Linked DNA regions of Homo sapiens: region 2 is linked to region 1. The links come from fine-mapping of genetic effects on gene expression. A gene starts in region 1. The other region holds a variant in brackets. All regions are shown on one strand. Distances are from middle to middle. Region 1 holds the start of TAS2R4 (taste 2 receptor member 4). Region 2 overlaps WEE2 (WEE2 oocyte meiosis inhibiting kinase).

Evidence for each region. PIP is the estimated chance that this variant, and not a neighbour inherited with it, causes the effect.
Region 2: its variant is the best candidate, but not a certain one, in a credible set for the expression of TAS2R4 in tibial nerve (GTEx, PIP 0.51).

What each region holds. Positions count from the first base shown.
Region 1 is chr7:141,774,159-141,778,553 of GRCh38, reverse strand. It overlaps TAS2R4 (taste 2 receptor member 4), which reads right to left and starts at 1,880. Exons shown (of 1, transcript NM_016944.2): 1 at 1-1,880. The coding sequence starts at 65.
Region 2 is chr7:141,713,922-141,718,316 of GRCh38, reverse strand. It overlaps WEE2 (WEE2 oocyte meiosis inhibiting kinase), which reads right to left. Exons shown (of 12, transcript NM_001105558.1): 2 at 3,912-4,108; 3 at 2,050-2,095. All of the region lies in intron 3 of WEE2-AS1 (WEE2 antisense RNA 1), which reads left to right. Among named protein-coding and RNA genes, the nearest start is that of WEE2, 7.8 kb to the right of the region's middle. RefSeq lists a silencer at 3,002-3,202. The variant T/A (reference allele first, on the strand shown) is at 2,195.

The DNA.
Region 1 (4,395 bases):
ATGATTCCTACAAAATTTAAAATAACTGAGGCAATAATAGCAGAGAAATAGAATAACCGAAGCATCTTTACTCATTGAGGATTCAGCAGTTGTGGTGCTGATAGTGGAGGCAGAAGAAATACCAAAATGTATAAGCAGACACCAGTATCCAGCCAGGAAGGACATCTCCTTTTTAATTTTTCCCAGCATGGCAAATGAGCCATTCATGATCAAGGGCCACCTGATTTTACTGAGATGCAAATCTTCCAAGGATTACATTACTATTTCTTCATTAGTATCCTGTTCTCCTTAGAAATGCCTAATTACAGCAAGCCTAGGTGATGCTGGGAGTCCACTCCTCCAAGAGCAGGAGGGCGAGAGGGAAGAGTCACAGCAGGCTCCAAAAACTTAGAATCCAAACCAGAGAGCTTGAGTCCAGCAATGTTTCTGTCAATGTTTTACGGTAAAGTTTTTCTTCATAAAAATGCCAGAATATGGTGGAAATCCTAATTCCTCACTCCTACCCACCCACCTCCTAGCCACATATTCATGGATGACCAGAATCCAATTTCTCTCTCCCCTCTAATCTGTTGCTGCCACAACAAGTTTCACCAATTGGCCATGCCAATGCCACTCTTTCAACCTCAGTGATTCACCTATAGCGATTTACAGTGATCTAATAGATCAAGTTCAAAGACCCAATACCTCCTTGAGAAAACCTTTCTCAATTAATCCCATTCTTTCTGATGCCCTTTGCTTTGCCTTCTCTATCTACATACATAGATTTGTGCCATAACCATTTGCTATGTTCTGGTTTTCCTTAGAAAAAATTAAGTCAGCCCTTGTAGGTGTTTCCTTTATAAATCTGGGTTTATGTTTAGATCATATGTGGCTATTTTCTCTTAGGCATTTAACTGTCAATCCAGGTACCCTGGAATGAGATACACAGTAATGCATTAGTTGTAGTTTTGTGAGCCAAACAGCTAGGCATCTCATTGCTGGATTTCTCTGTACTTGCTCAGATGGGAAATGGCAAAATATCCCTGGCAAATGATATTATGGAGGCCCATAGGTGAATGTAAGAGTATGGCATCTCTTATCTTCTCTAGCAGCTGAATGAAACCAAGGTGCAATCCTGGATGCAGCCACAGATGTTACCAAAGTAGCATCAAGGTACAGCACAAAGTCCTACTGCCAAGTCCAAATAGAAACAGACAAGAAAAAGGAGCTAAGATTTAATAATAATCAGGTCCAGAAGAGGGGAATACATTCATGAGGCCCTTTAAGACAGATGACAGGAAGCCTAGCCTGGAGAAATTCTCTGACCTGGTGCCCAGGTGCTTACAGAAGCTTTTTATTCAAAACTAACAGGCACTGATAGAGGCATGCCCACATCAGGTAAGCAGGCAAACAGAATGAGCCAGGAAGACTATGACTAAAAGGAAAATTATAGCACAGATTTCCAATTACTTATCCATAGATGGCTGCATTAAAGTGGTGAAGTTGAAATATTACTAACATCACATTTAAATAGAATAAATGATATAGAGTAAGCCATAACAGATAAATGTGGCCAAAAGAGCAGGAATCCCAGAATTAGATAGTAACAAACTCTATCTAGAATGTACTATACCAAATTGTTGGGTTCTCTGTAGGAGGAAGTGCTATAATTAAGATGTGATAAGGTTGGCTAGCACAATCAATGAATGAGCTCATTCAGTTAGAAGTTATTTCCACAAGGGTCAGTATAGGAAAAGTGTTAGCAGAACCCTTTCTCCCTATGCATGAGAATTTGACCTATGGTTAAACTTCCTAGCTGTTTTCCTTATCATGATGATAAGGATGATAAGGATAATCTTATCCTTATATGATAAGGGTAAGAACATCAACTATGTTTCTAGAACAAAAAAAAAAAAGACTCTTGATTGGAAAATTGCATCTTGACTGGAAGGAACTATAAGTGAACTGTAATAAGTATCTTATGGAGTCTACATGCATTGGGCTTCCTTCCCATGTACCTGTACCTTGACTCAACCCTAGAAGCTTTGTCTACAAAATTACCACAAAATAAATTGGATCTTTTGGGACACGAAGCTTTTAATTTGCAGCAGCTCCCACCCTTACCCTACTGTGGGTCTCTTATTACTGTACCTGAACTGTATGGCCTGCACCAAAAACTCTGCAAAAGAGGAAGGCCTGACACTGCCCTGCTGGTAAATCGGGTCCCTCAACTATATCCATCTGAGTAGGCTGGTACCACAGTAGCCTAAGATAGTCTTATAAGTTTGATTATTTACTAGAGCCCAAGAAGACCAACCAGCAGGCACTGCAGTCATGGATCCAAACTCTGCTTCTTGACAGGTCTGTAAGAAAGGCTTTAGGGCAAATAGTCAAAGCAAATGAATGGCACTTAACTTATTTGATGATGGCTCTGAAGAATGAGGTCAGTCATGAAGAAACAGGAATTTAGAAGTTTGAAATTTTTTCAGGTGGAGCCAACATGGCCGAATAGGAACAGCTCCAGTCTACAGCTCCCAGCATGAGTGACGCAGAAGACGGGTGATTTCTGCATTTCCAACTGAGGTACCAGGTTCATCTCACTGGGGAGTGTCAGACAGTGGGTGCAGGACAGTGGGTGCAGCGCACCGAATGTGAGCCGAAGCAGGGCGAGGCATCGCCTCACCCGGGAAGTGCAAGGGGTCAGGGGATCCCCTTTCCTAGTCAAAGAAAGGGGTGACAGACGGCACCTGGAATATCAGGTCACTCCCACTCCAATACTGTGCTTTTCCAACAGTCTTAGCAAACGGCACACCAGGAGATTATATCCCGCGCCTGGCTCGGAGGGTCCTTTGCCCACAGAGCCTCACTCATTGCTAGCACAGCAGTCTGAGATCAAACTGCAAGGCAGCAGTGAGGCTGGGGGAGGGTCACCCACCATTGCCGAGGCTTGGGTAGGTAAACAAAGTGGCTGGGAAGCTAGAACTGGGTGGAGCCCACTGCAGCTCAAGGAGGCCTGCCTGCCTCTGTAGACTCCACCTCTAGGGGCAGGGCATAGCCAAACAAAAGGCAGCAGAAACCTCTGCAGACTTAAATGTCCCTGTCTGACAGCTTTGAAGAGAGTAGTGGTTCTCCCAGCATGCAGCTGGAGATCTGAGAACGGACAGACTGCCTCTTCAAGTGGGTCCCTGACCCCTGAGTAGCCTAATTAGGAGGCACCCCCCAGTAGGGGCAGACTGACACCTCACACGGCTGGGTACTCCTCTGAGACAAAACTTCCAGAGGAATGATCAGGCAGCAACATTTGCTGTTCACCAATATCCACTGTTCAGCAGCCTCTGATGCTGATATCCAGGCAAACAGGGTCTGGAGTGGACCTCCAGCAAACTCCAACAGACCTGTAGCTGAGGGTCCTGACTGTTAGAAGGAAAACTGACAAACAGAAAGGACATCCACACCAAAACCCCATCTGTACGTCACCATCATCAAAGACCAAAGGTAGATAAAACCACAAAGATGGTGAAGAAACAGAGCAGAAAAACTGGAAACTCTAAAACTCAGAGTGCCTCTCCTCCTCCAAAGGAATGCAGCACCTCACCAGCAATGGAACAAAGCTGGACGGAGAATGACTTTGACGAGTTGAGAGAAGAAGCCTTCAGATGATCAAACTACTCCGAGCTAAAGGAGGAAGTTCGAACCCATGGCAAAGAAGTTAAAAACCTTGAACAAAAATTAGACGAATGGCTAACTAGAATAACCAATGCAGAGAAGTCCTTAAAGGACCTGATGGAGCTGAAAACCAAGGCACAAGAACTACGTGACAAATGCACAAGCCTCAGTAGCCGATTCGATCAACTGGAAGAAAGGGTATCAGTGATGGAAGATCAAATGAATGAAATGAAGCGAGAAGAGAAGTTTAGAGAAAAAAGAATAAAAAGAAACAAACAAAGCCTCCAAGAAATATGGGACTATGTGAAAAGACCAAATCTATGTCTGATTGGTGTACCTGAAAGTGACAGGGAGAATGGAACCAAGTTGGAAAACACTCTGCAGGATATTCTCCAGGAGAACTTCCCCAATCTAGCAAGGCAGGCCAACATTCACATTCAGGAAATACAGAGAACGCCACAAAGATACTCCTCGAGAAGAGCAACTCCAAGACACATAATTGTCAGATTCACCAAAGTTGAAATGAAGGAAAAAATGTTAAGGGCAGCCAGAGAGAAAGGTCAGGTTACCCACAAATGGAAGCCCATCAGACTAACAGCTGATCTCTCGGCAGAAACTCTACAAGCCAGAAGAGAGTGGGGGCCAATATTCAACATTCTTAAAGAAAAGAATTTTCAACCCAGAATTTCATATCCAGCCAAACTAAGCTTCATAGGTGAAGGAGAAATAAAATCCTTTACAGACAAGCAA
Region 2 (4,395 bases), 60 kb after region 1:
TAGTAAATTCTCATTAAACTATTATGACCAAAAATCTCCATAAATTTATATGAATCTAAATCCAAGCTGATTTATCTCCCAAAGTCATCTTTTCTCAGTGTCCCAATCCTGAAGAATTTTTCTCCAACTTTATGAGTTTGAAAAATCTTGGGTTTTACTACTTCCTCATTTTCAACATCTAATTCTGGTCACTTTCATCAGCAAGATCTCTTAATTTTCATTACCCTTAGCCAGTCTCAAGCTCTGTTCCCTTCTTGTCTGGATTGGCTACAGCTACCAGCCCTCTCTTTAACTCTTCTAATAGTAAGAATTATTTTTGCAAAATGATACCACAGAATCAGAGATGCCTAATTGTTTCCCATGAGAAATTCAAACTCTTGATAAGAAAGCCTCAAGACCTTCTACCAACTGCGCACTCACTACTTGACTACCCTCCCCCTAGATACCAATGAAGCCAGTATACCATCTGCATCTATCCCTGACCACTCCCCACCCACCATACCCCTCTTACACCTGAACTCTGTTCTCCTGCCTTGATAGCATTAAAAGTTATTTACTTCCTTAGCCTAAAATTATCTTAATATACAATCTCTTCCTACCCAAGCTCTATTTCATAGAAGTATTTACTAACCACTTCTAGATTTTAAAGATATACACGCATATGTATATTCACATTGCACATATGTACATACACATATACACAAATACATATATCTCATAGCTTCTAATTTACATATAGATTGTTTTGAAATTTCAAAGGTTTTAACTCCTGTTTGGCCAGATGTTTTTCCTTAAAGGGTGTAACTAAATACAATGCTTTGCACTTATTTAATGTTCAATAAATATTAGAATTTCTATCTGAAATCAAGAGATAAATTATAAAATAAGTGAGGAATAAAATCCAACAGTAAAATAATGGAGGCATAAGTCAGAAACATTTGCATTTGAAGGAACACCTGTGCCAGTGGCCGCCTTTTCTGTGATGTTTACAATAGCCAAGTGCTAACATTTTAACATATTAACATATTTATTTACGCAAATAAAACTTGCTTCAGAAAACTTTAAAAATTTAAAGGAAAAACAAATATGAAGTTTCCACCATTCAAAAATGTTGAAATAGCAGTGGTTATAGCTCCATTTCATTCTCCCTGTGATTAATGTGCAATAGATAGTTATGGTCATTCAGCGTATAAAATTTTGAGTCTTTTGCACACTAAACATTAACATACGCATGTTTTCAAGGTGTTATAAACATCTTAATGGCAATTTAGTATTTCACTGACTTAAAACTGTAATTAGCTTAGCCATTTTTCTATTATCAGGCATTTGGTCTCCCCCCTTTTTTGCTGTTACAATAAACATCTCTAAGGATAATGTTTGCAGTATTATTTTCTTAGGTTAGATTATCAAATGAGGGATGGATCAAAGATTGTGAACATTATAAAATCAAATATTGATACATTTAAGAGCTAAAATTTTACATATAAATCTCTGGCTCTATGCCCCTTTTTTCCATTATCTTTTTCTATTTTGAGACCAAAAATATCTTAATTTTCCCTTCACTTCTCTACCCCATGAGTGTAGAGTTTTTCTCCAGATTAAAATAGTAGCAGAAATATGTAATTTTAAAATTACTCTAAAGTAATGATCCAGCATATACATATCAGACACTGCCTGGCAGAGTTACAACTAGCTGAGAACACAGACCCTGACTAGGGTCCAGATAAATTCAGCTGCAAAGCACATTTACAAAGCTAGCGTGTGAGATGGGGTGAGATGGGGAGGGGAGGAGAGAAGGAGAGTAGGAGAAAGGAGGGGAGGAGGGGAGATGGGGAAGAGAGGGCAGAAGGAGAAGGGCAGAAGGAGAGGGTAGAAGAAGGGGAGGGAGGGTGCAGGGTGAAGGAGAGGAGGGGAGGGTGAGGAAGGAGAAAAGGGAGGGTAGGGAAGAAGGGAGGAGGGAGGAGAGAGAGGGAGAAGGGGAGGGGAAGAAGAGAAAGAATAGGATAAACTGCCTATATTGTGGCCGCTGGGACAAAGAACTACGCTTACCTTGGCAGGCAGCCCTCCCTTGCCTTCCTCTGGACCAGCTTCCTCACTTAAAAAAGAAAAAAAAAGTTTATCAATATATAATTAATATTTATTGAGGCCGAACTATGCTAGGTTCTAGGGATGTAAGAGTAAATAAGACAATTCA[T/A]TTCTCTTCGGTTTATATGTGGAGGCAGGGATAACCAGGAAATTTCAATACAAGAACCTAGAACTGGATAAGATAACAAGGATACCATGGACAGCACTCAATTATTTCAAGAGTGAAAAGCTTTCCCAGAAGAGAGAATATATAAGCCAAGATTCTGGGAACGAGTAGGAACTAGCTAAGGGAAAAGAGTGAGGTTTTCAGCAGGTAAAACACCATGTGCTGGAGCAAGAGAGCACAGAACATATGTGCAACTGTTAAATGGGTATCTTTATCCCCAAACTAGGAAACCAAGACAGAGAGAGGTTAAATAACTCTAGGTCAAACAATTAGCAAGTGGCAGAACTGGGACTTGGAGCCAGGTCTGACACCAAAGCATTTGCTCCTCACTGCCACACCACACTCTCTTTCCGACACCCACCCCTCCCCTAGAATCTGGCTTTGTAATCGGTTCACAGGTAGACTGCAAGTAGGGCAGAATCTGCTCTAACCCGGGATGAGATATTTTCAATTACTCTTCGATAAGCTAAGTGACCAGCAGACATCCTCTTTGCCATGCATACTTGTATTCTGGATCCTTAAGCAAGATTTCAACTAGCTATAGATTTTTCTTTTGGAGAAACACAAGGTAGAAATGGCAAATGGAAGGCACTACATTCATGGAAATAAATCAATGCTTGGTATTTGTGATTTAGTACCACATTGTAATACTTTATGAAGTGTTTATAAATTATAAAAATAAGGAAAAATACTCTCTTAGAAGCACCAAATGACGCTACAAAAGTGTCAGGATTTCATATTAGCTGTCTTTGTTGCTGGCTTCGGTGAGAGTATAATGATTTACAGAGACTCCTTAAGAACTAAAACCAATCGAATTCTTGGTAGCCAAAGTAGGTGGGTGGACTTGTGCTGAAGTCCTGTTTATTTAAGTAAGAAGGAGATAGTGTTGAGAGAACCTATTCTGGTCAAAGACTGATTAACACATACTCATTGACTCCAAAGAAACAACTTGACATAGCACATTAAATGCTCTGCAAAGTTTACATTGTTAGCTGTCCATTTATTTCGCTGAGTACATATGAACATAAATGACTGCCCCACTTTGGAGGCGATTCCATTCTATAAAAAAGCCTTGGAGAGACATAGTAATGTTCCTGAGTAATATGCACAATCCTTATTTGGATGATTTCTGTCATTCAGGGCCCTTTATGGAATAGTACAGTTTGGCTTTCTATTCTTTAGCAGCTCTGAAAGCAATGCTTTTTTGCTTCAGCCAATCTTCCATCACCCACAGAGAAGTTCAAATCCTTGCTCTATAGCTTTCATCACTAGTCACACAAGACTCAAAGCAGCAACGTACTCTTTGAAGTTTGAGCTACACGTTCCCCAACTGCCAGCCTCATATTAACCAGAGGGGACCCCTTGAATGCAATTCCATAGCCCACTCAACTTCCTAATAGAAGCCAGAGATCTATTGCTTATTCTGTCTTATCCTTTTATAGAGAAAGCATCTACAGTACATATCAGAATGGAAAGATGTTGGAATCTCTGTGATAAAGCAGGTAAAACCAGCATTGATATCTAGGAAGGGGAGAATATGTAAGCATATACATTTCATTCAAATAGAGTTCTCGTTCCTAATCTTACTTTAACACTCACTTCTTACTACTTGACTGTAGTAGGGTCAGTTCTCAAAAGTCATAAGTAATAGAGCACTTACAGATCTCCTCTTATTTTCCTCTTGCCACCAGATTGAAGAAATAATTTTTTATAGGACTCTGGAGTGAAGGGATTAATATTGACCAGAGCCAATGAGGTCATCTCATCCTTGAGGGGAGCAGGTGTGAGCTTCAAATGCTTAGGGCCTCTGGAAGGAAGCTTCCCTGTTGGAGAAATCACCAACCGGCTCAGCATGGTCTGAATGAGGATGACAAAAGGCAAGTCATAATAGCATTAGTAAAGACATTCCTTATCAGTTAGCTAGTTAATATTTGAATCTAAGAATGCTTTTGCTGAAGGGGCCTTAGAAATTATCTGGTTCCATGTGAACTGGTTGCATTGTAACTGCTCCTCTTATGAAAACTATAGAATCCCAGTCTCTACCTCTAGATATTCTGATTCATGAAGTCAACACAGGAATCTGTACTTTAGTCAAGCTCCAACCCCTTCCCCTGGGCAATTCTGTTAGCTAGCTATGAAAACCA